4 linked regions of the Homo sapiens genome follow. The protein of the gene in region 4 purifies or fractionates together with the protein of the main gene of each other region. This does not show direct contact. Each region holds a gene or a part of one and is shown on either strand. Other genes may lie near its edges.

What was found.
Region 1: the proteins of SP6 (region 4) and CCZ1B purify together in Homo sapiens (co-immunoprecipitation; 2 studies listed by IntAct). This does not show direct contact.
Region 2: the proteins of SP6 (region 4) and TRAF7 purify together in Homo sapiens (affinity purification with mass spectrometry; 3 studies listed by BioGRID and IntAct, with this or other methods). This does not show direct contact.
Region 3: the proteins of SP6 (region 4) and RMC1 purify together in Homo sapiens (affinity purification with mass spectrometry; 3 studies listed by BioGRID and IntAct, with this or other methods). This does not show direct contact.

The regions. Positions count from the first base shown.
Region 1 is NC_000007.14:6,816,273-6,823,294, forward strand, and holds part of CCZ1B (vacuolar fusion protein CCZ1 homolog B), read right to left. Parts: intron 6,093-7,022; coding exon 6,009-6,092; intron 3,670-6,008; coding exon 3,494-3,669; intron 1-3,493.
Region 2 is NC_000016.10:2,172,773-2,178,642, reverse strand, and holds the end of TRAF7 (E3 ubiquitin-protein ligase TRAF7), read right to left. Parts: intron 5,462-5,870; coding exon 5,244-5,461; intron 5,163-5,243; coding exon 5,089-5,162; intron 4,856-5,088; coding exon 4,807-4,855; intron 4,723-4,806; coding exon 4,595-4,722; intron 4,393-4,594; coding exon 4,310-4,392; intron 3,533-4,309; coding exon 3,493-3,532; intron 3,343-3,492; coding exon 3,226-3,342; intron 3,144-3,225; coding exon 3,021-3,143; intron 2,810-3,020; coding exon 2,690-2,809; intron 2,595-2,689; coding exon 2,463-2,594; intron 2,379-2,462; coding exon 2,259-2,378; intron 2,084-2,258; coding exon 2,069-2,083; 3' UTR 514-2,068; downstream 1-513. Other genes in the region: CASKIN1 (caskin-1), read left to right, coding at 1-93. UniProt on the Homo sapiens protein: E3 ubiquitin and SUMO-protein ligase that plays a role in different biological processes such as innate immunity, inflammation or apoptosis. Potentiates MAP3K3-mediated activation of JUN/AP1 and DDIT3 transcriptional regulators.
Region 3 is NC_000018.10:23,498,824-23,506,511, reverse strand, and holds the start of RMC1 (regulator of MON1-CCZ1 complex), read right to left. Parts: upstream 3,002-7,688; 5' UTR 2,894-3,001; coding exon 2,792-2,893; intron 2,142-2,791; coding exon 2,065-2,141; intron 329-2,064; exon of another isoform or gene 1-328. UniProt on the Homo sapiens protein: Component of the CCZ1-MON1 RAB7A guanine exchange factor (GEF). Acts as a positive regulator of CCZ1-MON1A/B function necessary for endosomal/autophagic flux and efficient RAB7A localization.
Region 4 is NC_000017.11:47,848,158-47,856,055, reverse strand, and holds the start of SP6 (transcription factor Sp6), read left to right. Parts: upstream 1-4,892; 5' UTR 4,893-5,137; intron 5,138-7,569; 5' UTR 7,570-7,626; coding exon 7,627-7,898. UniProt on the Homo sapiens protein: Promotes cell proliferation. Plays a role in tooth germ growth. Plays a role in the control of enamel mineralization. Binds the AMBN promoter.

The sequences.
Region 1 (7,022 bases), on a different chromosome or scaffold from region 4:
GATTCAACACCAGCCTGGCCAACATGGCAAAACACCGTCTCTACTAAAAAATATAAAAATTTGCTAGGCCTGATAGCACACACCTCTAATCCCAGCTACTTGGGAGACTGAGGCATGAGAATCGCTTGAACCTGGGAGGCGCAGGCTGAAGTGAGCTGAGATCACACCACTGCACTCTAGCCTGGGCAACCAAGCAAATGAGACTCAGTCTCAAAAAAAAAAAATCAAAGCAATATACTAAGTAAATACATAAGGGTAATATATACTCTGCTTGTGACAAATGTTTTTTTTCCACTTTTTGGTAGAGACAGAGCCTCATTATATTGTCCAGGCTGGTCTCCAAGTAACTCCTGGCTCAAGCGATCCTTCTGCCTCCTCCTCCCCAGTAGCTGGGACTATAGGTATGTGCACCACGCCTGGCTTAAAAGTCTTTTTGGTATTTAATATAACAGCTTTGGAATAAGCAATTCCATCAAAACGTGCTGTTTTTCTTTTTCTTAGACAGGGTCTTGCTCTGTCACCCAGGCTGGAGTACAGTGGTGCTATCATAGCTCACTGCAACCTCAAACTTCCAGGCTCAAGTGATTCTCCAGCCTCAACCTCTGTAGTCTCTGTAGTTGGGACTCTAAGTGCACACCACAATGCCCAGCTAATTTTTTTTTTGCATTTTTTGTAGAGATACAGTCTCACTATGCTGCCCAGGCTGGTCTTGAACTCCTGGTCTCAAGTGATCCTCCTGCCTCAGCCTCCCAAAGTGCTGGGATGACAGGTGTAAGCGTTGGCGCCTGGAGTAAGAGGCTGTTTTTCTTGAAGGTTATTTTTGTTGCTACTTCCTGGGACTGACCTTTCCCCACGAGCACACTGGAGGTGACAACCGAGCAGTTCTGTGCAGCCACCAGAGCTGTGCCCTGCTCAACCCCTCAGATGCTATTCCAAGATGACGATGCCAACAGGATCCCCAGAGCTGGGCGCCAGATTGTCCTGTGACTCCAGGCTTCAAAGGGCCAACGCTGCTGGTCACTCTGGCTCCAGGGTCTCCCAGAATGAGCTCCTGGAAGACCCTCTGCTCTAAGCCTTCCCTCTTCCTCACTCTCAGGAGTTTGCACCCATGGCGGGGCTTGTGTTCTGTCCCAGAGATCAGAATCTCAGCTACCCTTCTCTTTTTGGTGGAAGCAAGGCCATGGGCCACTACTGCTGGATTCTGGCTTGTCACACGACATCTCCCTATCGCCGTGGCTGCGTGTGATTTGCAAGCACGTCCTGTCATTTCCATCTGTGGAGGAGCCATCCCTCTGCAGACCTGATGCTACAGAAGCACAACTAGCCTCCCATCTCCTACATTTCACAGCAGAATTTCACTTTAGTAACATTGTGTACATATCACAGAAAGCAACTATAGCTGAGTCAGTACAGCGTAAGGTTGCCTGATAAACTATTTGTCAAATTAGAAAGTAGGTGGAGGCCGGGCACAGTGGCTCACACCTGTAATCCCAGCACTGGGAGGCCGAGGTGGGCGGATCCTTTGAGGTCAGGAGTTCGAGACCAGCCTGGCCAACATGGTAAAACCCCGTCTCTACAAAAATTAGCTGGGTGTTGTGGTACTCACCTGTAATCCCAGCTACTCGGGAGGCTGAGGCAGGAGAATTGCTTGAACCCAGGAGGCAGGGGTTGCAGCAAGCCAAGATCATGCCACTGCACTCCAGCCTGGGCAACAGAAAGCGACTCCATTTCAAAAACAAAAAAAAAAGTAGATGGGTTTCACCTGAAATTTGTGTTGTCTTCCTAGGAGATAAAGTTCATGTGGAAACCCACCAAGTTGTTTATTAACTGGATTCAAATTTCTTTACAGTAACTTGTTTCTCTTCTTAAAATGGAGCTACAAGATTTTGGCAGGGAAGGTAAATTTTAGGGGAACTAGTTTTGCCTTTTCTATTAGCTGAACTTACCTTATAGTAGTACCATATGGCCACACCCCTAATTAAGAAACGGGGCTAGGCCAGGTGCGGTGGCTCACACCTGTAATCGCGGCACTTTGGGAGGCCAATGCAGGCGAATCACCTGAGGTCAGGAGTTTAGGACCAGCCTGGCCAACATGGTAAAACCCTGTCTGTACTGAAAATACAAAAATTAGCCGGGCATGGTGGCATATGCCTGTAATCCCAGCTACCTGGGAGGCTGAGGCAGGAGAATCGCTTGAACCCAGGAAGGGGAAGTTGCAGTGAGCCAAGATCGCGCCACTGTACTCCAGCCTGGCAACAGAGTGAGACTCCGTTAGAAAGAAAGAAAGAAAGACAGAAAGAAAGACAGAAAGAAAGACAGACAGAAAGAAAGAAAGAAAGAAAGACAAGAAAGAAAGAAAGACAAGAAAGAAAGAAAGACAGAAAGAAAGACAGACAGAAAGAAAGAAAGAAAGAAAGAAAGACAAGAAAGAAAGAAAGACAAGAAAGAAAGAAAGAAAGAAAGAAAGAGGGCTCTAGTCAATGGGAACATAAAACTTGAGGGTCCCGGAACAGCTGCAAGCCTTGATGACTTCTGTCCACCTACTCTAGGCCAAATGTGCACAACCTCGGTTGCCACCCAGCTCTCAGGGGTCATATATGCTGGGCAGTCTTGTGCCCACGTTGTTCCTACTGCAGGACACAAACCTAGTTTCACGATAGCAGGTAATTTCCTGGTTTATATAACACTTTGGATTTCTTGGATTAAAAAAAATCTAGTTTCTTTAAAAGAAAGTAGGTGCAGTGGCTCGTGCCTGTAATCCCAGCACTTTGGGAGGCTGAGGCGGGTGGATCGCTTGAGGCCAGGAGTTTGAGACCAGCCTGGGCAACACAGTAAACCCCATCTCTATAAGAAAAAAAAAAAAAAAAAAAAAAAGGTATAAAAATTCTGCTTTTAACATTTATCATTTCAGAAAAAAAAACTCCAAAATAAAAACAGGATTCCTAAATCTTACTTGATAGGAACATTCTTTTTTTTTTTTTGGAGACAGAGTCTCTCTCTGTTGCCAGGCTGGGGTACAGTGGTGCCATCTCGGCTCACTGCAACCTCCGCCTCCCGGGTTCAAGTGATTCTCCTGCCTCAGCCTCCTGAGTAGCTGGGATTACAGGCATGCACCACCACGCCCAGCTAATTTTTGTATTTTTAGTAGAGACAGGGTTTCACTATGTTGACCAGGCTGGTCTCCAACTCCTGACCTCGTGATTCACCTGCCTTGGCCTCCCAAAGTGCTAAGATTACAGGTGTGAGCCACCGTGCCCAGCCTTTCATCTTTCATGCAGCCAGTTTTAAACTCCTCTGCTTGGAAATTTGAACCCAAATCACCCTAGTTCTGCTTTAAATAATCACTGCTTTATTTTGACAATATCTATGAAGATGCTTCCTACCCATCCTCCCCGCTGCAAGTTCCTGTTTGACAACCTGTCATCAATCCAGTCACTGCTGTTTTTATTATCTTAATTTCTTCTTTTAATACCATGCCTCGGGGTGTACCTACCAGATGAGCTGATCGTTATAGAGAAAAGCAGTGTATTTGACTATATTCAGGCTTTCCTCCATTCTATTAATAAAGGACTGGATTTTCAAATAAGTCATTTTATCCAACGGGAAGAAGCTGATTCCACCAAAAATGTCAAGTAGGTCACATGACTGCAAATGTAGCGTTTGCAAATACTGTGGAAAAAAAATAAGGCATAAAATTTACTAATAGTACACTGAATATAATGCTCCTTGATAACTGAAAATAATCTTATGTCAGACTCACATTTATGGTACAATTACATACTAGCAAACAGCACAACAATGAGGCCGTGGTGAAGACATGGGTGACTGAGTGTCAACTCAGTACCAATTCCAAGATACAAAGTTCAAACTATCTACTTAATGTTTATTCAGTATTGTGTTTTACTGCTTTAAATTTATTTTTTTGTGACAGAGTCTTGCTCTGTCATCCAGGCTGGAGTGCAGTGGTGCGATCTCAGCTTACTGCAAGCTCCGCCTTCCAGGTTCACACCATTCTCCTGCCTCAGCCTCCTGAGCAGCTGGGACTACAGGCGCCTGCCACCATGCCCAGCTATTTTTTTCCATTTTTAGTAGAGACAGGGTTTCACCATGTTAGCCAGGATGGTCTCAATCTCCTGACTCGTGATCTGCCTGCCTCAGCCTCCCAAAGTGCTGGGATTAGAGGTGTGAGCCACCACGCCTGGCCAAAAATTTTTTTTTTTTTTTGGTATAGACAGAGTCTTGCTATGTTGCCTAGGCTGGTCTTGAACTTCTGGCCTCCGTGATTCTCGTGTCTAGGCATCCCAAAGCGCTGGGAATACAGGCATGAGCCACTGTGCCCAGCTAGCACTTTCAAGTATTTAATTCCTGGCCAGGCACAGCGGCTCGCGCCTGTAATCCCAGCCCTTTGGGAGGCCAAGGCGGGCACATCACTTGAGGTCAGGAGTTTGAGACCAGCCTCGCCAACATGGCAAAACCCCGTCTCTAATAAAATTACAACATTAGCCGGGCGTGGTAGCCTGTAATCCCAACTATTCAGGAGGCTGAGACAGGAGAATCACTTGAACTTGGGAGACTAAGGTTGCAGTGAGCCAAGATCACACCATTGCACTCTAGCCTGGGTGACAAGAGTAAGACTCTGTCTCAAAAAAAAAAAAAAAAATTAACTCCCTGCCTTAATGCTCTTCAAATTAGACTAACCTAATGAGGGATCTATCCATTAATACTACAGAGAGTGCCATCTTTATTTCCCCCCCGAGATGGAGTCTTGGTCTGTCACCCAGGCTGGAGTGCAGCGGTGCGATCTCGGCTCACTGCAACCTCTGCCTCTGGGGTTCAAGCGATTCTCCTGCCTCAGCCTCCAGAATAGCTGGGATTACAGGCGTGCGCCACCACGCCCAGCTAGTTTTTTGGTATTTTTTAGTAGAGACGAGGTTTCACCATGTTGGCCAGGCTGGTCTCGAACTCATGACCTCAAGATCTGCCCGCCTCGGCCTCCCAAAGTGCTGGGATTACAGGCGTAAGCCACCACACCCAGCCAAGAGTGCCATCTTATACTAAAATCATGTCTAAATGATATGTACTCAGGACAACAGTTCTATCCATATGTTGACGGGTAAGAGAGAAATGAGGACAAGAACAGAAACCAGGAGATAATATGCGAGTGGATAATTGTGGTCATTAAAATGACAAAACAACAAAGAAAAGTAATTCAGAGAAACAAAAAAATTCAAAAATAGCTATGAAAGCTGTTTTAGAAAGTCGAATTCAAAAATAGATACAGAAGGTATTTTCAGAAGAAAATAAATTGAGAATTGTTGCTTCAAGATAAACTAGGCTAGGCGAGTTGGCTCACGCCTTTAACCCCAGCACTTTGGGAGGCCAAGGAGGGAAGATCGCTTGAAACCAGCCTGGGCAAAACAGCCAAGACAAGACCCTGTCTCTTTGTTTCCTTTTAAAAAAAAAGATAAACTGAGCTTGACAAGGTAGGGTGAAACATGCAAAATTCAATTACAACGAAAGAGGACAGCACTTGGAACAAATCTCCCCAATCGCTAATCTGACAAAGTCTGTCAAGGCCAATAACTCTTACCTACATCAAGACAGTTTACGCCCGTTTAGTGAACAGAACCAATCCCTGAGATTGTGCAACTCCAATAATTAAGTTTTCCTTATCAACTAATCTATCACACAAAAGATGGCTGCTGAGTAAGCCCAGAAGGACAGATGCAGGTAAAACACAGGGAGGCCAAACGATGTCTCCAGGACCCTTTAAGAGCCCCGGGCAAACGCAGGAAGCTCTGCCTTACACCACAGCTGGAGGGAAGGTTCCAGAGCACACGCCTCATGCGTTTCCTCGCTGCTCCAGTTTTGCGACGGTCTGTCTCAGGCTCTTTGCCACTTTCAAGTTCTGGGTTTTTTGTAGATAAGAAACAAACTTGTCTGTCTATATTTCTCTAAAAACCTGATGAATGCTTAGTAAAGTTATAAATGAAATTCAAAATACTTACCCGATGGAAGAATTTCTCTAATCTTTCTTTCAGAAGCTTGACGCCTCCGTCTTCCATGGCTTTCAGAAATGTACCATTAAAAAGCTAGTGAGGTAAAAGATTGCAGAAAAAAAAATCAGTTTCCTATGCTCACTTTTTCAGTATAACAAGTTCTTTTTTTCCTTTAGATTATTAATTCAGCTCATTAAATCTCCCAGTTCTTTCCAACAGAGAATATTTACGTGAGAAAACTTGAGTTAAAAATGTAAGTTACAAAAAATACTGTTAAGTGATGCTGTTTTATGAAACCACCTAATTGCTCTAGGCATCTTTCAAAAATTTCAACTTACCCTTAAGTTTCAATTTACATACATAATATCACCCACATTTCTGTTTTTTTATTTTTCAGTGTTCTGTTAATAAATGGAATCACCAAACTTTTTATCCTTTTTTTTTTTTTTTGAGATGGAATCTCGCTGTTGCCCAGGGTAGAGTGCAGTGGTGCAATCACAGTTCACTGCAGCCTCGACCTCCAAGGTGCGAGCGATCCTCCCACCTCAGCCTCCCAGGTAGCTGGGACTACAGGCATGCACCATGATACCTGGCTAACTTTTATAAAATTTTTTTGTAGAGATGGGGTCTTGCTATATTGCCCAGACTGGTCCTGAATTCCTGGGCTCAAGCAATCCTCCCACCTTAGCCTCCCAGAATGCTGAAATTACAGGTGTGATCCACTGTGCCCTGCCTCACTGAAACTTTTAAATCATAAAATTATCTGCATTCTGTATGTTCCTTGAGCACATAGATACACTTTTTCATCAATGGGGACACATTCCTACTATAAGGCTGAGAAAAGAGAAGGGAGTTCAATACTTACTGAATAAATGTAGGCATAAACCTCACTACCTGTTTCAAAGGCCTCATTATTTTCTTCTCTAAGACAAATACAGAGTCACTTTGCAGTCATTTATAGACTTCTCTTTAAACAACCCTGGAGCCTAGAGATAGGGGTAAGTGGTTGGACTCTGAGTTGAG
Region 2 (5,870 bases), on a different chromosome or scaffold from region 4:
TCGGCGGCGGAAAAGAGCACTGGCAGCATCCTGGACGACATCGGCAGCATGTTCGACGACCTGGCCGACCAGCTGGATGCCATGCTGGAGTGAACGCCGCCTGGCCGGGCCCTCCCGCGCCGCCCGGGCCCTCCCCGCACACTGACCTATACCTCAGGATGGGCGCGTCTGGGCGCGGCGCGAGCGGCCGGGCAGGGCCCTGCAGAAGCACAACTCCGGCCCCTGGACCCGGGCCGGGGCGCCCACCGGGGACCGCCTGGCCGGGGGCTCCAAGGGCTCTAGGCAGACCCTGCGCCCGCGGGTCCTCCCCACCTGCTGCTCCCCGTGCAATACCTGCTGGGCCTCCTGCCCGCGCGGGAGGGGAGGGCGCCCCGGGACCAGGGATGGGGCAGCGCACAGGCCCGGGCCCAGCACAGAACTGCCCATCGGGACGCCCGGCCAGCCGCTCGGGCGCAGCACAAGGGACAGGGGACCAAGGTCAGGGCCCCCCTGCCCCACCGCACCCCCAGAATATAAGCTATCAAGAGTATTAATTTATTGGGAATGAGCTGAGGCGGATTTCCCCAGAGAAACAAAAAGGTATAACTTTAACAAATATATATTTAAAGAAAGAAATATTATTGATTCTATAGAAAACCATTTACCAACTGAAAGGACACGAAGTCTAGCTCCGGACAAAAGCTGTTAGAGGCCCAGGCTGTCTGCCTGCGGTCCTTCCTCCGGCCAGAGTGGAGGCCCCAGGCTGCTAGCACAGGTGGAAGGCTGGGGCCCGGGGGCGGGTGCTCTGCCGGGGGCTCCTCCGTGCTTCTCTCCTAAGTTCTCTGCGCCCCAAGAACTCGAGGTTGTGCCTTGCTCTCGGCGGCCGTGTCCTCCTCCTGGCGTGGCTGCGTCCCAGGGCGCGGGTGGGTTTGGTGAATGTGGGTGTGTCAGCGTGGCAGCCACGTGGAAGCAGGGCATGTAGCAGGCCAGGCCACGGGCTTGCAGCTCCTCTGAGGGTGTGCCTGGCCCCCTCTCCAGGGGCTGTGCAGGCAGCCCATCCACCCCAGTGGAGTTCCCACGGACGCTTCTGCTCATGGTCCAAGGCTGTGTTGTGTGGTCATTCTCGCCCTCCCTTTTCCTCTCTCCTCCTGCCCCCTCCAAGAAGTACTGACTGGTCTCCTCTATCGTGTTTGCTGATCCACAGTGTTGGGCACAACTTTGACGTTTCTTAAAAAAAAAATTTAAAAAATGCCGAAAACCAGCGATTGTGGTGTGGGGCGGGTGGAGGCGGCTGGCGGAGGTGGCGTCCCGGCGTGCAGGGCCCCTTCCTGCTGTCTCACCCCGTGTTTCCCTGCGAGTGGACGTGCCCAGCTGTCCCCCCAGGCCTCTCCTCAGAGGGCGGCACAGGCTGGGCTCCAGCAGGTGGGCAGGGGAGGTCTGGGCAAGGCGCTGCCGTCGGCTGTCAATAAACAGCAGGAAACAGAGGTGCCTGGCTCACTTTTTGGGGGCACATGTGTTGGGGGAGATGGGACTGGAGGCCAGCAGCTTGGGTGTGACGAGTTGCCTCCTAGCAGGGAGGGGAGGCCCCGGAGTGGGCCGAAGTCCTGGGGTCCACCAAAGGAAACTGCCCCATGCCCCCCCACTCACAGCAGCCAGTGCCTGTGCACACCAACCTCAAGGCCACACACAGCCCCCTTGTCCCGAGGAGCTGTCCCCACTCACAGCCACAGTCTGTGGAGCATTTATTTCAACCAGGAGGTAACCAAATCTACATACAGTCTAAAAACGGTAGAAAAGGTGAGTAAAAAGGCCCTCGCTCCATCTAGGGTGGGGATGGAGGGTGGGGATGGAGGGTGGGCCGGGGCAAGCGTCGTACCTGGCACCCAGAGAGGGGCTGGGCAGCAAGGACAGTGCCGAGTAGAGGGAGGCTCGCCGAGCATGGGACGGGGAGGGCACTGCCCGGCTGCCAGAGCCTGTCCACCTATGCCCACGGGGCAGGCAGAAACCCCGAGACCACCCCATGTGGCCAGCCTGGCTCAGAAAGGTCCAGGGCTGGTTCAGGGGAAACCACAGCCTGGCCTGGATCCTGTTAGCAAGTCCAAACCTGCAGAGAAAGGGCTGCTTCACCAGGATGTCCTGCGGCCGGCTGCCCTGCCCCAGCCACACCTGCCACACGTACCTGCCCTCCACCACTTTGTGCTGGGGCTGCCAGCTCCTCGTCCCCACCCCCGCTCCATCCTGTGCAGCCCCTTTGAATGGCCTGAGCCACGGGCACTGACCTTCACAGTGCTATCCACAGCCCCTGAGAAGAGTCGGCCCCGGGACACAGCCAGCGCGGTGACACTGCCCTGGTGACGCAGCAGGGTCTGCGTGCAGATCATGTTGTCCATACTCCAGACCTGGGGGCACATGGGACGTGAGGGCCCGCCGGAGCTCAGCTGCCAGCCCTCTGAGCCTCCTGCCACCGCTGGGCCAGCACGCACCCTGAGGGACCGGTCGTAGGATGCACTGAAGACTTTGGTCTGGTCTGGCGTCGAGATGACCGCCAGGGCATACACGGTGCCCACGTGGCCCGTGAGGGTCCGCACCTGCTCCTTGGACTCAATGTCCCACACCTGGGAGGGGTGGGCACAGGCAGGTCAAAGACACTGAGCAAGGCGGGGGAGACGGGGCCACAGTCTGGCCTTGCACCCAGATGCCCAGGCCTTACGTGGATGAGGTTCTCGTAGGTGCCACAGACAATGTGGTGATTTGTCACAGCAATGGAGTAGACGCTGCCACCAGACGTCTGCAGGACGTGGATGCAGTCAAGGGTTCGGATGTCCCAGATCTATGAGTAATCGTGGGCCAGTTGGTCCCAGGCCAGGTGCTTCACCCCCAGGGCCCCCGCACCCCCAGGGCTTCAGCACTGCTGGGCAGCCCACCCACCCAGCCAGGGGATGTGCGAAGGTAGGAACAGGGCAGATGGAGCCCCAGGTGCTGGCCTGGGAAGTGCTGGTAGGAGGCAAGGCCCTGTGGCCACCAGGTGTGCCCAAGCGCACCTTGATTGTCTGGTAGGAGCCGCTGTACAGGTAGCTCTGGGCAGCCACCAGGGCCCGCACCCAGTGGTTGAGGCCTGTGAGCTCCTTCTTCAACTTCAGCTCAGTGCCCACGATGTCCCAGACCTGCAGGGATTGCTGCAACTGTGGGCTGGGCGGGCAAGGGACGCCTCAGTGACACACACGTAGGCACAGCCTCCACCCGTACCTTGATGGCCTTCAGGGAGCCGCTGAAGAGCACGTTGTGTGAGGAGACCAGCGTGCACACCGGGTTGTCATGGGCCCGGATGGTGTTCACCTTCTGCAGGTTCTGGATGTCCCACACCTGATTGGGGAAGGACCGGCAGCCTCAGGGCACCAAGCCCTGCCACCTGGAGTCTGGAGCCCAGACGGGGAGAAACACGTCCCTGGGGCACCTACAGACTGGGGCGGGCCTGGGCCGCCTCCTGCCCACCCGCCTGTAGGCCCCACTCACAATGATGGTGCAGTCTGCAGAGCCGCTGTAGAGTTTGCACCTGGGGAAGCAGAGACAATGTGTCAAGGTGGGAGAAGCTGTGTCCATGCTGACACCGCCCTGGCAGGGCCCGAGGTCCATGCCAGCCATCAGGAACCAGCAGCATGGCCCAGGGCCAAGGCCACTGCTGTGTCCTTAAGCGTCAGCCTATTTTCCAGTCTCCACATGGGAACCTTGGAAGGGGCGGGCCAGCCCCTGATGCCTGCCTGGAAAGCATTTGACAGCGAGCTGGGAGGTAATTACCCACCCGTCAGCCCTGAGTCAGTCCCAGGGCCGGCTGCTGGCAGTCAAGCTGCCGCCTCCTGAAAGCGAGCATCTCTCACGCACACGCTTACTTGCTCGCTCCCACAAAGCCTCACGATAGGAGACAGGAGGCAGGCGGGCCACCTGGAGGCAAGAAAGTGGCCAAGGTAGTTGCTCCGTAGTCTCTATGCCCTGGGCTTTGGCTGCAGGCAGGGGAGAGCTGAGCTCCTGCCTTCACCCCCTAAGGTCCCCCCTATCTTCTGGTTGCGCAAGGTGCACCTGGGCCAGGACAAGGTTCTGCTGGGAGGCTGGCTGCGCCAGGTATTGGGAACACACAACTTTGGAGATGGTGTAGGCCACACAAGGGCCCACACACTGCTACCCAGGAAACAGTGCTGCTCCGGGTGGAGGGTGCCCTATAGGTGGGGCACACACATAGCTACACAGGCTCGAGCTCATGGCTCACGGCCCACGGGGTGGCAGCGCCACGTCTCCTGTCCTGGGAATCACTGATCACACATGTGCCTGGACTCACCCCTGGATGCAGAGAGCCAGCACGATGCCATCATGGCCCTCCAGTGTCTTCTGACACTTGTAGGTGGTACATGTGTCCCACACCTGCAGAGACCAGGGCCACAGTGGGTCCCAGCAAGGTCAGCCCAGTGTCAAGGGGCAGCATGACAGGAATGAGTGAGGGAGCCCCGCCCATGGGAGAGGGCCCTGCCCAGAAGGTCCCACCCATAGGCAGGCTGGCAGTGCCAGGCATGTGGCAGTGCCCAGCCCAGCCAGGCTGCAGAGACTGAGGTAGGACCCTGCCCACCTTGATGGTCTTGTCAGAGGAGCCACTGAAGAGCAGGTCACCCATGGAGTAGACGCAGAGACACCACACAGGGCCCTGGTGGCCCACAAAGGTCCCTTTGCACTTGAAGATCTGCTGAGGGTCGTAGGCTGCAGAGATGGGAGCAGTGGGTGAAGGCCCAGTTGGGGCCCGGGGGGGAGGGTGGGCGGGAGCCACGGCGGGTCCATACTCACAGCCTAGGATGCCCATGTTCAGCCGCGCGTTGATGTGGGACAGCTCGTCCTGCAGGGCCAAGGGCAGGGCAGAGGGCAGGTGGGCAGGGCTGCTGTGGGGCCAGTGCAGCCTCTCTGCCCCTGCTGCCCTGGGCCAGGGGTGGGCAGGGGTGACAGCAGCCCCTGCCACACACAAGACCCCTGATCTTGACTAGTGTAGGCAAGGCCAGGGGAGGCCTCCCTGCCGGGGCCGCCGGCCTCCCCGGGTCTCACAACCCAGCCCCTCCAGCCCCGCCCGCTCACATTTAACATGGATGCGTCCCGCCGGAACTCCATGAGGTCCTCGCTGAGCTTGCTCTGGTTTTCGTCCAGGACGTCTGAGTAGCAGGAGGAGAGGGGGTGTCACTGGTGCCCGGAGCAGTGGCCAGGCCCCTGCCTGCCCCGGTGCCCACCCTCACCAAACTTGAGCTCCAGGCTCTTCTCTAGCTGGTCGATCTTCTCCGAGAGCTTTCCCAGCATGGAGCGCAGGAAGGCGATCTCCTGGTCCTTCTGGGCCAGAGCCACGTGCATCTCGTGGAAGCGGTCATCCGTCTGCTGCAGAAACTCCTTCAGGCCCTCGAAGCGGCAAGTCTCCAGGTGGGTCTCGTAAGTGTCCTGGTTCCCGATGAACGTGCACCTGCGGGGACAGGACAGCTGCCTGCCTGGCGGGTCCCTGCCGGTGCCTCCCCATCCCCAAGAATCCCCCTCAAATGCTCCAGCCCTGTGGCCGCTGCACCCCAGGTCCAGCTGCCCCCACCCACACCTGCCGTCCTGCCCCTCCTCCCCATCCAGCTACCCCCAGTCTGCTTCACAAGTGAGATCCCATCACGTCACCCCCGCAGAGCTCTTCAAGGGGTCCTCCCTTCCTGAGGATAAAACCCACGCTGCTTGGCAGCCTCCCTGCCCACCTCCCTGCCCTGAAGAACTGGGCTCCTGCCTCTCCTCCCACCCCCACCTCCCTCTCCAAAGCTCTCAACCCCAGCATTTGCTCAAATCCGCCCATGCTGGGCCGGCTGCGGGAGCGTCCACGCCCGCCTTCCTGGACG
Region 3 (7,688 bases), on a different chromosome or scaffold from region 4:
GGCCTACACCTGTAATCCCAGCACTGTGAGAGGATGAAGCAGGAGGATCACAGGAATTCGAGACCAGCCTCAGCAACACAGTGAGACCCCGTCTCTATTCCAATACATACATTTTTTAAATTAAAAATTCATTTAAAAAAAAAAAACTCAAGGGATGGATTACAGAAGGGCCCAAGGAAACTTTTCGGGGTCTGAACATGTTCATTGCCTTGATTGTGGTGATGGTTTCATGGGTGTATACATGTCAAAACTCACATATTGCATAATATTAAGTGTGTACAGTTTATTATGTGTCAACTATGCCTCAATAAAGCTGCTTTTAAAAATCTTTTTTTTTTTTTTTTTGAGACGGAGTCTTGCTCTGTTGCCCAGGCTACAGTGCAGTGGCATGATCTCGGCTCACTGCAACCTCTGCCTCTCGGGTTCACGTGATTCTCCTGCCTCAGCGTTCCGAGTAGCTGGGATTACAGGCACGTGCCACCACACCTGGCTAATTTTTGTATTTTTAGTAGAGACAGGGTTTCACCATGCTGGCCAGGCTGGTCTCGAACTCCTGATCTCAAGTGATCCACCCGCCTCGGCCTCCCAAAGTGCTGGGATTACAGGCATGAGCCACCGCGCCCAGTCTAAAAACTCTTTTTAAGTTAAATTCAGTACCTTCCCCCCACCCACAAACTTCTTAGAGCCCCCAATCTAGATTATCACGGGCTCACTCGTTTTCCACACCCAACCGACCCCCGGGTCTTACGAGAGACCCATCTTCCTAAGTATCCCTTGATTGCCTATGCAATGCCACTCTACACCACCAGAGCGCTGCTCTTCACCACACATGGCTCGCTGATTGCTACTCTCCATAGCATCCCTAACTCTGACAGGCTCCCAACTAAGCCAGCCTCCGTGCTGTGAACAGCATGATCTTGCCAAACACTGACATGATCATCCCACACCCCACCTGATAAGTTTCAATAAGAAGATAAAGCTCTAATTTCATAGGAGAATATGTAAGGTTCAAGCTGGCCCCTGCCAGTGGCCACACCACCACCATTTCCCCTTCCCTGTGGAGACACCCTATGTAACCTTCAGTTACACAGACCCAGAGTTCCCCAAAACACCATGCTCGAACCCCATCCATACTTTAAAACCTTGCTCAGGCCGGGTGCAGCGGCTCATGCCTGTAATCCTAGCACTGTGGGAGTCTGAGGCGGGCGGATCGTTTTGAGGTCAGGAGTTCGAAACCAGCCTGGCCAACACGGTGAAACCCCATCTCTACTAAAAATACAAAAAAAATTAGCCGGGCGTGGTGGTGGGCGCCTCTAATCCCAGCTACTTGGGAAGCTGAAGCAGGAGAATCACTTGAACCTGGGAGGCGGAGGTTGCAGTCAGCCAAGATCGCACCACTGCACTCCACCCTGGGGAACAGAGGGAGGCTCCCTCTCAAAAAAGGACAGTTTCTCATTAACACAGACCAACAGTAAAATTTTTTAAGTCACTACTGAATTGAGGGCCTACATTATACTTTCACCTTCTGTAAGCACCAGTGTTACAGTGGCCAGATAGCTTATCATCCAAATCGAGACACTTCTGAAAGTGAAAGGCCCTGCTGTTGATCATTAAACCTGTTCAACAGTGCGAACTGGGACTATGCAGTCACCTTAAGTATAGTGGAAGCCATGATTTTCTTGTATTATTACATGAGAAACAATGAATCTCCTCCACCTGCCACTCTGGAAAGACCTGGGCTAAAGAAATGAACGCCCTCCTCTGTGAACAAACCAGAAATGGGCACATCATCACGCTGACTTGTTAATTTCCAGTGCTAGGAAGTGGCTGCCCCACTTTTGAAGTATTTGGCTCCCAAATCAACTGCTCCAGATATTCCACTCTGACAAGAGGTGCTAGTAAGTGCCACGAAGACCCTCCCTACAGACAGGAATTCCATGTGCGCACACAGACTTCAGGCCTCTTAGGGCAGACCAAATGACAAAATTATAAAAAACCATTTGAATTAGAAAAACATCATTCTGTTTACATGACAAAATGATCTGAAAGTGTCTATACCATTACCTAAATGAGATGGGATTCCTATCATCTGGGCCTTTAACTACCACGCCAGTAGCTCCACCAGATCGAACAGCAAAAACCTGAGAGGGAAAAGCAGCAAGGTTAACAGCCTGAACTCTGAAAGGATCTAAACTCAGAAGCCAACCCGCAAGCGATTATTTCTGTTATACACCACCCTGGGTTCAACTAAAGTAACACGGCACATATCAAGGTACAGATGTTTGGCTGCTCAGGTGAATTTTAAAAACCAAGAGCAGAGAGCGAAAAGGATGCCACCGTGACACCGGGTCGGGTTCCCGAGGCTCCAAGTTCTAACACCGGTTCGCGCATCGGCGCCGCTGATACGCCTGAAGTACAGTCTTTTCCCCCTTTACAAAATTTCAAGGAAAATGAAAATCTCGACGTCTAAACCCTTGACTACGAGTGTAACTAATGACAAACACAACAAAAGAAGCCTAGATAAGACGGGCGCGCCAACAATTGAGACACTGGCCACGGGGCCACTGCATCCGCGCAGCTGGCTCGGGGGTCCAGCCCCGAGGTCACCTGCGAGGACACCTGGCCGCGGCTGAGCCCACCCAACAAGGAAGGAGCGCGCGCCGCCTCCCGCGCTGGGACGGGACGGGACAGGACAGGAGGGGACGCTCGGGCCTGGTCGCGCGGGACCGGCCTTGGCGCGCCCACGACCCCGGCAGGGCCGCGCGGGGGAGGAAGCGCGGGCGCGCCGGACCTGCTTGTTGGCCTCATCGAAGAAGACGCAGTTGACAGGGTTCGCCTTCTCGAACTGCACCGGCCGCTCGCACAGCTCCAGATAGTAGTCCTCCTCGCCCATGGCGGGCGCCGCGCCCGCGGCGGGGGCCCCGGGGGCGGTCGCCAGAGTGGAGCAGGATGCGCGGTGGAGCCCGGCCCGGACTGTAGCGGCGGCTGCGGCTGCGGCTCTGGGCCCGGCGCGGACGCCGCTTCCTGGTGCCACGCCCCCACCCCGCCCACCACGTGACCCGCGGCCCTCTGCGCTTAAACGGGCAGCGTCTGGCTGCGGTGGGGCCCACCGGCCTTAACCACGCCCCGCCCGGCGCTGGAGGCTCCTCCCCTCTCCCCGAGGGCGGTCGGAACGCGGCGGCGTGACCCGGAAGCCCGCGTGGTTCCCCGCGGACCGAGGGCGGCGTAGCCGCCAACCCTACCCTGCTGCGAGTTCCTGTGCCCGGCTCGGTCGCCCCTGCCCCAACCTGTACCCCCGCGTGGGACCGCTCCCGGTCTAGGAAAGGCTCCTCCTTGCTTTCGGGAGGATTTCCCAAGTGCCTCCCGCGCCAGAGTTCCAGCCTCTGGGAGCTTCGTCAGGGAGAAGGGGCTGAAGGCTCACTGAGCAGGTGTAGGGGCGCCAGAGACCGTCTCCAGTCCCCTCAGCGCTTCTGCGGGCTCTTCCGCTGGAGCCAGAAACCGAATTGACAAGAGGCAGATAAACAAAAGAAAAGCATACACACTTTATTAGTTTTTCATGGGGACCTTCAAAAGAGAGTGAGGTCTGAAGAAGTGGCCACAGCAAGATGCTTTTATACTTTTTAGACAAAGAATGATGCATTTGAGAAGAAAGCACAAAAGGCATCTGGCTGGGGCGATACATTTCTAAGAGAGTCACTAGGAGAAATATTGGGGAGGGTGTAAAATTAGTGGAAGGTAAGTGTTACTTGGGAAGTTCATTTATTCAGGTCCATTGCAGCCCCAACTCCCAGTCTCTGGTGATAAGGGCTATTTTCTGACCCGGGTACAGAGAGGGTGCCACTCCCAGAGGAATCTTTACTGCTTATTCCCTGTAGGAAACGACAGGTCATCTAGCCCTTTCTGAAACTACAATTTCTCCGGTGTTTTTAGCTCAAAATAATATACCAATTTTTGGACATATTTTGGGATAGCACATCCTTCACTCCTTGCTAGTAACAGGGAAACCTAATATAGATTGTGGGTCAGCAAGCCTTTTTACTTGATAAGAAACATGAAATTTACCATGTTAGCCCCTCTTTTTTTGTTTGTTTCAGAGACAGAGTGTCTCTGTGCCCAGGCTGGAGAGCAGTGATGCGAACACGGCTCACTGCAGTCTCAACCTCCCATCTCAGCCTCACAAGTAGCTGGGACCACGGGTGCATGCCACCACACCTGGCTCATTTTTTTATTATTATGCTTTGTAGAGACAGCGTTCTCTGTTGCCCAGGCTGGTCTCAGACTCCTGGCCTCAAGTGATTCTCTCGCTGACCGTGCTCAGCCCCCATGTTAACCCTTTATTTTTATTGTTTATTTTATTTTATTTTGAGACGGAATTTCGTTCTTGTTGCCCAGGCTGGAGTGCAATGGCCCTGTCTCGGTTCACTGCAACCTCCACCTCCCGGGTTCAAGCGATTCTCCCGCATCAGCCTCCCAAGTAGCTGGGATTACAGGCACCTGCCACCATGCCCAGCTAATTTTTTTGTGTGTATTTTTAGCAGAGACCGGGTTTCACCATGTTGGCCAGGCTGGTCTCCAACTCCTAACCTCAGGTGATCTGCCCACCTTGGCCTCCCACAGTGATGAGATTACAGGCATGAGCCACCGCGCCCGGCCCCGTGTTAACCCTTTTTGAGGTGTTCAGTAGTATCAGGCATATTCACATTATTGTGAAATACGTTTCCAGAAACTTTTTATCTTGCAAATCTGATTCTGTCCCTAAATTTGACTACTCTAAGTATCTCATATAAGTGGATTTTATAGTATTTGTCCATTAGTGTCTGGCTTCTTTTGCTTAGCAAAATATCCTCAAGGTTCATCCATGTAGCATGTGTCAGGATTTCCTTCCTTCATTAAGGCCGAAAAAGATTCCATTTTATGTATATAGCACATTTTGTTTATCCATTCGTCTGTTGATGGGCATGTGGGTTGTTCCCACCTTTGGCTGTTGTGAATAAAGCTATGCAAATATCTGTTCAATATTCTGTTTTTAATTCTTTTGGGTCTATACCCAAAAGTTGGATTACTGGATCATATGGTAGTTCTATTTCTCAGAGAGCTATTTTTGAGTGGCTTTGATGTCTGAGCCCAGGAGTTTGGTTTGGAGCATGTGAATCCAAGGAGAAATGACATCTAGGCAGATGGATATATTGGTCTGAAACTCATCAGAGGAGTGACAAGACTGGAAATGTAAGACTTCTACACTCAGCCTCACCCACCCAGGCCCATGTCACACATGGAAAAACCGATAACTCCAGAACCCTGCTCTCCAGCCACACAGTGCCATCCCTGCAGCTGGCTTGTTTAGCTGCTCCCTGTGACTCTTCCTCAACATCACCAGTTTGCCCTGTCATTGTTCTGTCCTCTCTACCCAAGTCTATCTGCCCTCTCCTCTCTTCCCTTCCCTCCTCATCAGCTTTGATTTCATTTCTCTGCATTCCAGTTATTTTTTGCCATTACCTTCAACATCCTTGCTGCACTGTTCTTGTCTGGCAGAGCCTCAGTCCTGGATGAACTCAGCCACCTGCTTTCCCAGTACCTACTGCTGGAGGGGTCACACAACAGGACAGAGGGCACTGCGGGAAATTCAAATGGGCCCTCAGCCCTGCCTGGCTGTCCCAGTCATTGTCTCTCCTGTTCTCTGCAAGGATATTTTCAGGCCTTCTTCACACTCCTCAGACTGTCTCGCCCCTATTTCCATGAACATCGAGGACTTCAGATGGAAACTGGGCTTCATACCAGTTGTGCAGCGCACCACGGCTGTCCTTCTAGAAAACGGTCCATCCTGCCCAAGGCCAAACCCTGTTTTTATTTATTTATTTATTTATTTATTTGATGGAGTTTTGCTCTTGTTCCTCTTGTTGCCCAGGCTGGAGTGCAGTGGCACAATCTTGGCTCACTGCAACCTCTACCTCTCGGTTCAAGTGATTCTCCTGCCTCAGCCTCCCGAGTAGCTGGGATTACAGGCATGCGCCACCACACCCGGCTAATTTTGTATTTTCAGTAGAGACAGGGTTTCTCCATGTTGGTCAGGCTGGTCTCGAACTCCCAACCTCAGGTGATCCACCCCCCTTGGCCTCCCAAAGTGCTGAGATTACAGGCATGAGCCACCGCGCCTAGCCCAAACCCTCTTTATTTTTATTTTTTCACAAATACCACAGTGACTTACCAGCACTTCTTTGAATTCCATCTTTCGGCTGGGTGCAGTGGCTCATGCCTGTAATCCTAGCACTTTGGGAAGCTGAGGCAGGTGGATCACCTGAGGTCAAGAGTTCGAGACCAGCCTGGCCAACATGGTGAAACCCCGTCTCTACTAAAAATACAAAAAAATTAGCCGGCTGTGGTGGTGAGTGCTGGTAATCCCAGCTACTTGGGAGGCTGAGGCAGGAGAATCGCTTGAACCCGGGAGTTGCAGGTTGCAGTGAGCCAAGATCGTGCCATTGCACTCCAGCCTGGGCAACAAGTGGAACAAGAGCGAAACTCCATCTCAAAAATAAATAAATACATACATACATACAGGGTTTGGCCTGTTTATATAAACAGGAGGCAGAAGTTGCAATGAGCAGAGATCACATCACTGCACTCCAGCCTGGGTGACAGAGCGAGACTCTGTCTCAAAAAAAAAAAAATTTAAAAAATTTAAAAAATGAATTCCATATTTCACCTTCTCAAAAAAACCTACAGTATTGACCATCCCGTTTCTCTCATATAGGCAACCTCTCCTCACTCCTGCTCCTAGAAGCAGCCTTTATATTTGCTCATCTCTCCCATCATAAAAACAAAACAAAAACAGAACTGAAAACACAGAGGACTTCCCTAAACACACGTCCCTGTCTGGCTATCACTGCCTTCCTCTACTTCACAGTGAACAGGAGTCAGTCTTGACCCATCCCCACTCCGACCCCTCATGCCCAAGCAGGCACAGGCCATCAGCTTAGGTACAAGTTTAGAAAAAGAGACTTCCAAGAAAACCCAAGCTACTCCACAGAAGTGCATATTTCGAACATGACCCCACAGGAATGTCTGCCAAGGACAGGGCAGCAGTGCAGTGTGTGCGCGTGTGTGCGCGTGTGTGTATGCGTGCCTGTGTGCGCATGCATCACACTTAAAAAAGACTATGGTCTTTTTATGACACCAGGCATCTCGTCCTTCCCAGAGAATTCAGTTTGGTTGACTCTGGCAGATGTTTTTGTCCTAAGAGCCAGGCTTGATTGTTGTGCAGTTCGCCTTGGGTCTGCAAGCAGCATTGAGGTCTGCCTGCATGTTATGGGTTGAAGTGTGTCCCCCCAGAATTCAGATGTTGAGGTACTAACCCTTAGTATTTCAAAATGCATCTGTATTTGGAGATAAGGCCTTTAAATAGGCCGTTAAGGTAAAATGATGGACCCTAATCCAGTATGACTGGTGTGTTTATAAGAGAAGATTAGGACCTAGACACACAGACTGAGGGGCCGCCCATGTGAAGACACAGCAAGAAGGCGCCACCTACAGGCCAAGAAGAGCTGCCTCAGAGGAAGCAACGCTGCTGGCACCTTGATCTAGGACTTCTAGCCTCCAAAACTGTGAGAAAATAAATGTTTTCAACCTCAGTCTGTGGTATTTTGTTGTGGCAACCCAAGCAGACTAATACACTGGCCATGGGCAAGACGCCC
Region 4 (7,898 bases):
GGGGATGGAATTTGGAGAGTTCCAGCTATCCCAGCTCTCCACCCTAGCAATGCTGTCATTTCCTCCATCCTGCAAGAACCACTTTGTCCCTCTCCCACTGCCCAGCCAACTCTGCGGAAGGAAGGAAGTGCCCCCAGCCCCCACTCCCAGCTGAAATCCTCCTTTCCTGGCAGACCTCACGGACTCAGATCTCACCTCCTACCACTCCCCTAGGAGAGCTGGGGGCCACTGTTTCCTGGATTATCCTAAAAGCTTCTGAGGCCGTGAGGACTTGGCAGCATCCCTGCTCCCTCCTTCACCTCCCCCTTTGGCACTGCCTGTCACCTCCTTTATAAAGCCTGGCTCTTTTATCACCGCCACTTGGCCCTCACTGCCGCCGCCAGCTCTGGGCTCCATGGACTGGTAAGAGAGGCTGTTCCCTGTCCAGTACAGGGGACCTCCACAAAGAGGATCAGGTCTCCACTCTAAAGTGGGGGTCATAGAGAAGGGTCTGGTTCTCTCTGAATTGGGAAGGGGGAGATAAGAGGGAGATCTTGGTGGGGTTTGCATGGAGAACTAAAGGGATCCCTTGGAGGTCTTTTGACTGGGCTGGGGTAGTCAGCCCAGTGGAGAAGTGGGGTAGGGATTCATAGCTGGGAACTTTATTTCGAGAGAAAGGAAGGGCAAATAAATGTTAATAGAAATACAGGGCACACACACTCACTGCCCTGAATGACAGAACACCTGCAAGGATAGTAAGGGAGAAACCACTATCCACATCCTATGGGGAACTGCATTTACGGTGGAGGAGAGAAGACACCCTACACTCAAGCCCACAGGTACACACAGGCATAATATGTACACACATTTGTAGATATACACACACCGACATACAGATGCACTATCCTCAGGTGGGTTCATCTTCTAGACTGAAAAGCGATGGTGGTAGCTAGGGATTTTGAAATTTATAATAAAATTAGTGTCCAGCATTGTGCTTGGCCTTAAGTAGACCCTCGATAAGTGTTTGTTGAATGAAATAAAGGATGAATGAAAGAAAACTATTTGACCCCAGCTTTAGGCTCTATCTGGTTTTCTAAGAATCAGGAGAGTATGGTGGGGAGAGGAGGGGAAATAAGGAATATGTTGGCATCCAGGGTCATCAGCTTGCAGGCTTGGAAGTGCAGCCCGAAGGTGGGAGTGGGAAATGGAGGAGAGGAGTGAGTGAGAAGAGGAAAACAGGACCAGACTCTGGTCTGGTCCCAGCTCTGCTTCTAACTTGCTACTAACGTCCCTGTTTTGGGGTTTGGTTTCCCTACCAGTAAAACGAGGGCTTGGACGAGACAATTTGGGGCTAGACCAGCTTTGATATTCTCATAGTGCAATCTCTACAGGACAGTTGAAGTTTGGAAGGGATCACAAGTGTAGAGTCTGACTTGTCTCAGCAATTCAAGATGGGATCAGTTTGTCCATTAGACTCAAGATAGGAGATGGCTTTGATCTAGGGATTCATTTAAGAATGCTGTTTCCTCCACCTTCAGGCTCTAGGGGAGCCAGACTTCCAGGGTCATCAATTCTGCCATATTGAGGCCAGATGGACTAGTAGGCAGAATACAGGCTTTGGAACCTGAGAGATCTGAACTCAGTTTCTTCTTCTGTCTTTTAACAACTCTGTAATCTTGGGTAGATCATTTAACTTCTTTGATCTTTGGCTTCCTCATCTGTACAACGGGAATAATAATAATTACTTTGCTGCATGCCCATGAGAATTAGAGATATTTGTGTAAAGCATCTGGAACATAGTAGGTGCTCAGTAAATAAATGCCGTTTGTGATAAACACGCAGACTAATGAGATTTCTCCAGGTACAAAGTGGATCACTGACTATAGATGAAGCTTGAGAAGAAGAGGGGTGGCAGGAATGGGGGTTGGACACTTGCAGGGGAAATCTGACTATTTATTTGAGAGAATGAGGAAGAGCAGCAGAAATGGCCCAAGTCCAAGACAGATCTCAGTTTATACAGGAGATGTGATGGGCTGTGTTGTTCAATTTTGAGTAGCAATAAGTATATGGGCAATGGGCTGTGGTGACCTTGCTCATTAAGTTAACATCAGACCATGCGCCGTCATTCGGTGGGAAAACATTTAGCAAGTGGGAAACCAAAAGGGCTGGAAGCAGAGGACTGCAAGTAGAGGGGGACTGGAGGAAAGATAGTGCCAGTACCCTGAGTGAGCAGCAGAAACCTAGGCAGAGCAGGAAATCAGAATGGCTGGGAGTTTCCAGAGACAACTGCATTGTTGTTGAATTTCCTGCTGATGAGCTGCAGGCAGATGGAGGGTCTTTGCTGGTGGAATTCCAGATGGCTACAGGTCTGGTTGGATCGGGGCAGGGCTAAAGGGGGCCTAGAGTGAAAGTAGCAGGGAGTGTCTACCATCCTCGGGCTGAATCCCTGTTGCTTTCCAGGGAAAAGGCAGAAGGGGCCAGGAAGAGAAGGCAATCTGATGCCTATAAATGGGAGGGGAACTTGGTCCCCTACCCAGAGTCAGACCCCTGCACAGGCTTTAGCACCTTAGGAACAGTAGATGCAGCACCAGCAGGCAGCTTGGAGGAGGAGGCAGGAATGCCCAGAGGTCAAATCAGGAACCAGAGTCCCCCACTGGGGGCTCTGTTTTGGACCTGATGAGTGTCTACTCCATTCCAGAGGTAGCTGTGAACTAGGATACAAACCCAACTGGCCAGGATTTGTAGGCTGAATGGATGGAGACAAAGCTGCGTTGATGAAGAGGATTGATTGTCAAATTAGCCATGGCCACAAAGATCCAGAGCAGTTCCTGTGAATCCACATCCAGAGCCCCAAGTAACAAGAAGGCAAAAAGCAAACCCCGACTGATCAGAAATCTCAATCCCCCGATGTCAGGCGGCATCTCCGGCTTCCAAATACCTGTCACTTCTCTAGCTTGGTGGCTGCTTTTACAGCATTTCACCAAGGAAGAAACTGAGGCTTAGAGGCACCTGACCTGCCAGGGTCAGTTTAGCAAGTGCAGGGCTGGGGCTAGAATTTAAATCCGTCAACTTCTAGTCCACAGGTCTTTGTGCATACACCTTAATCCAACCAATATTTACCTGGAACTGACTTATTTAATAATTATAACAAGGATATCTTCCATTTACCCGGCGCTTACCAGGGGCCCCTTGGGCTAAGCATTTTTAGGCATATCAATTCCTTTAAGCCCCCAGGAGACCCTACCAATGTGTACCCAGGTTGTCCGGATGAGGGAAATGAGCCTTAGAAAAGAGGGAGATGCACAGATGAATCCGACGTCGATTCTGGATAAGAACGTGTGCGTGTCTGAGGGGTACCATGCACATACGCATACACACATGGATTGATTTTCACCCCGCTTATGCACTCGGTTTAGCTATTTTTGAGTTACAGTTTGAGTGTGTCCCAAACGGGCATGCAGGACAGGTAAACCAATGGCGGGGGGGAGTAGGGGCTGTAGAGGCGAGATTAAATCAGCCTAAATTCAAGTATGAAATCGACTGTAAAGAGGAAAACGAAATTTTAAAAAGCCGACGGCAAAGCGCACAGAGGAGACGAATCTGAAAAATGAAAGAAATAGGGAAATTAATCTGCATTCCCCTGTGAAAAAAGGGGTCACATGGAGAGATCAACACTGCGGCATGGGAGTGAAGCATGGGGCCACCTCAGCGGCCAGGCAGAAGAATGCGTGGGTGGAGGACGGAACTTCCCTACCCACCGGTGCTTTGCGGGTCTCGGAAATGTCGACCCATCCAGATCTTGAGGGAAGTTTTTGTGAGCTCCGCGAGCGCGCTGAAATTTTACCAGAATATTGCACTGGGCATGTGAATTTTTCTCAAAGGAATCCAAGACCCCTCCCCAAAGTTAAGAACCTTGGGTTTAGTTATTCTGGTGAGAATTAGAAAGGAATGGTGGCAAGGGATAGCTCAATTCCTTCCAGAAGTGTCCCTTCCCAGGGCCATTCAGGCGCCTGCCCATTCTTCAGAACCGGGTGCTCGGGGGCGAGGGTGTGCGTAGGCTGAGCATTTCCCGAAGGACAGGAGGGCGAGGAGAGGCGAATTTGAGAGGTGGATTTCTTAGGCACTGGGGTTGCTACCTAAGGGGAGGGGCAGAGTGACAGCTGCTGGGACCTGGGACCAGAGTAGGGGGGAAGCAGAGACCGGTGGTGGGCAGAGGCTGGGAGAGGGGAGGAGAGGAGGTGGTCACCCAGAAAGGTCAGAGAGGGATACCCCGGAAGGGAGAGGGAAAAAAGGACGGGGAAGGGTGGTGGTGGAGAGAAGCGGCGCGGGGTGCGGGGGGTGAGGCAGGGCAGGGGACGGGGGTCGGGGGTCGGGGGAATGGCGAAGGAGGGCAGCCAAGACAAATTTCACACGGCCTAGGCCTAGAGGCGAACTGGAAACATACTTGGCGCTCAATCTTGTTTCCTTCTTTCCTCCCAGTTCCGGGGCAGGGCTGTCCGTTCAGAGAGGGTCAAGGGCCATCGAGGCAACCTAAGGGTTGCTGCCTAAGGGTGGCTCTGTCTCACCCCCAGGACCTGCCCCCTTATCCATTCCCCCTGGGTCTTAGTCCTGCGTCCTCTGCTAGACCGAGCTAGCTCCAGGGCAGTTTTCCACCCGGCGGGGCGGGTCTTAGAACCTGGGAATCACCCCACCCGGGCCCCTCTCCCTGGGAGTGGAGGGGACCAGGGAGGAGCGAGGGAGCGGGCGGCGCACGCCCTAGTTATCTTTCCTCCCCCACTCCCGCCCACCCCCTCCTCGCGGCCCTGGCTGGGCTCCGGTCCAGCCGAGCCCTCAAGGGTTAAAGGCGGCCGCAGGTGAGGTGGGCGGGGCCGCGAGTCCGGGGGAAAAAGCAGCGCTGGGGAGAGGATGAAGGCAGAGAGCGCGGGTGAGTCACGGGCGGAGCTGGCCTTGTTCGCTCGCTGGCTCCTGCCCGCCCTCCGTCCTCCGCCCTCTCGCCAGCGCTCACCTCCGCCGCCTGCCGCCTGCCGCCAGCCGCCGGGTCTGGCTCGCCCTGGGCTCCTGCCCCTTACCGCTGGAGAGCTCGCCGGCGCACAGGGCCTATGAGCGACCGTCAGTAGCGCACCAGCCAGCCGTGCCCGGAGCCCGCCGCAGCCTCGAGGTAGGAGCGCGGGTCGGGGTGGCCAGGGGTGAGCGCTACGGAGATTGTCTCGAAAAAACGCACTCCGAACGCGCCCCAGCCTCCTATGGCCTTGGGAGCGGGGTGGTCCTAAAGGATCTGAGAGGTTAGAACCCCGATGGAGGGAAAACTGGGCGGACGGGAGAGACTGGAGGGACCGAGGAGGCTGGAAACCGGGGCAACTGGAGCGACTGGGACAACCAGAGGACCGGGACATTGAGAACTGGGAGTACTAGCCGGTGATCCAGAGAGGCAGAGCCGAATGGGGCATAAGGGTGCACCGACTTGCCTTCCCACTTCGGGGAGCGAGAAGCCTGCGATGTACGCTGTGCTCTCTCCTTTCCTGAACTCTTTCTAGGCCTGGAAGTGAACCGGACACATACTTGGCACTCAATCCTGTTCCCTTCTTTCCTCTCAGCTCTGGGGCAGGTGGGTCAAGGACCATAGAGGCAACCTAAGGGTTGCCACCTAAGGGTGGCTCCATATCACCCCCAAGACCTGCCCCCTCCTCTATTCTCCTGGGTCTTAGTCTTGCATCTTCTGCTAGACTGAGCCAGCTCCAGGGCAGTTTTCCACCCAGTGGGACTGGTCTTAGAACCTGAGAATCACCCCGCTTTGGGTTTCTGAAATCTTGGTAGCAGGCCATTGCATCCCAGGCCTGGGCTCTCCAGCTCTCTGCCAGGAGAAGCCACTCTGGAGCCCAGATTATCCTAGCCTTCCCATCCTCCAGCCCCTGGGGCAGTTCCCAGGCACCAAAAGCTGTTAGGGTCCCTGGCTTCACAGCTCCCGCTCAGCCCCTTCTGTGCTGCCCCACCCCGGCCTGGGGCTCCTTTCCTGCAACTTCACCCTGTTTTCCTCTTGTGGTGAGGCAGCCGGAGCCTGAGTAGGTGCCCCCGTCCTCCTCTCCCTCCCTCTCCCAGGCTATCAGTGCCACCTCCCTGGTCCCAGAGGCAGGAGATGGTAGGGTCAGCTAAGCCCTGCTGTAGGAAGGAAACAATCCTGCCCTAAGTCACTGGTCTCCTCCCCCACCAGTAGAGAAGACCCAGGCACACAAACCTGCCCAGCTGAGGCACCAGGGCTTCCAGGCCTTAGGGAGAGGTGGTGAGAAAAGAGTGAACTTCAAGCCACAGATATGTGGTTGAGAAAGCGTTGGGGGTCTTTAGCGTTCTAAGGGTCTACAGAAAGATTGGTTTACAGAAAGTAACAGACTGAGAGTCCAGGAGTTAGGAGACCTGGTTTATTGAATGAATAAATGAACATCCTTGTCCAAGTCACTGTGCCAAGTCATTCAGTCTGCTTCCTTCTCTTCAAAATAAGAAGATTGGCCTGGAGCAGTGGTTCTCAACATTTGCTGCATATAAGAATCTTCTGGTGGTGGTGGGGAGCTTCTGAAAAATGATCCATGCCTAGGATGCACTTGCTTATGTCATCTTTTTGGGCAATTCTTGCTCTTAGGTTCTGTGGTTATGACTTCTCTTGTTGCCCTCCTCTTCCTGCACTCTGACCTTGTATCACTTAAAGGGGTGCAATTGTATCTTCCAGAGCTTGCTGTCAAGCTCTTCTCTGGGGAAGCCATTCCCTCCCAACTTTCTATCTGGGCCTCCCCTAGCATGGAGAGGAAGATGGGTAGCAGTCAGAGAGTTGCCTGGCACTGGTATGAGTCAAGAGAGGGATGGAAATTTGGTTTTCTCTGGTGGGGGTATCTCCCAGATTCCAGGGGTATCTGGTGGCCAGAAAGCTGCTCCCCAGGGAGGTGAAGTCCCTGCTTGAGGGAAGGGGGTGGGGGCATGTGAGTCGGTTTAGTGGGCCCGATGTGACCAGGCCAGGCGGGGAGCAGCGTAGACGGTGAAATGCTTTTCATTACTGAACATGCTTTGGGAATGGCATGAGAACTCTTTCAAAGACTCAGGACCCGTTTGAGGCTTTATGAGGGGCAGGTCACCTGAAGCTTTGGGTTTCAGAAATAGACCATCCCCTCTCCCATCTGTATCCTGAGTTAAACTGGGGAAGCTGAGATGTGTCTAGATCCTCCATTTGGGCTGACAGCAGGTCTGCAGGGGGAAAATGCCACTGCCCCTTGTGTTGGCCTGGGCAGCTGGGGTGGGGATGGTTCTAGCACTGTGCTGTAGGTGTATCTGACCTACCATCCTGGGAGTGGCCCAACTCTAGGGATGAGCTGGGTCATACGGCAGGGATCACCCAGAGGAAGGTAGACCTCCATCATCCTCTGTGCTTGGATGAGAACCTCACATCTTGGACCCTTCCTCGCACTCCCGAATTCTCTAAACTCATCTCTAGTCCTCGTTCAGAGGTGCATCCTTCTTTTACACCTGGGGCCAGAGAGGAGGACCTGGGTTAGGAGGGAAAGTGAGCTGGTTATTTCCCTTACTTTTCTGCTTCTTCGCCTCCTTTAGGTCCCGTCTGAGGTGCCCCTGACCGTCCCTGCCCTCACCCCACCCCGGATCCCGGCAATGCTAACCGCTGTCTGCGGCTCTCTGGGCAGCCAGCACACGGAAGCGCCGCACGCCTCCCCGCCGCGCCTCGACCTGCAGCCTCTCCAAACTTACCAGGGCCACACGAGCCCTGAGGCCGGGGACTACCCCTCCCCGCTGCAGCCTGGAGAGCTGCAGAGCCTCCCGCTGGGCCCGGAGGTGGACTTCTCGCAGGGCTATGAGCTGCCAGGGGCCTCCTCGCGGGTAACCTGCGAGGACCTGGAAAGCGACAGTCCCTTGGCCCCGGGCCC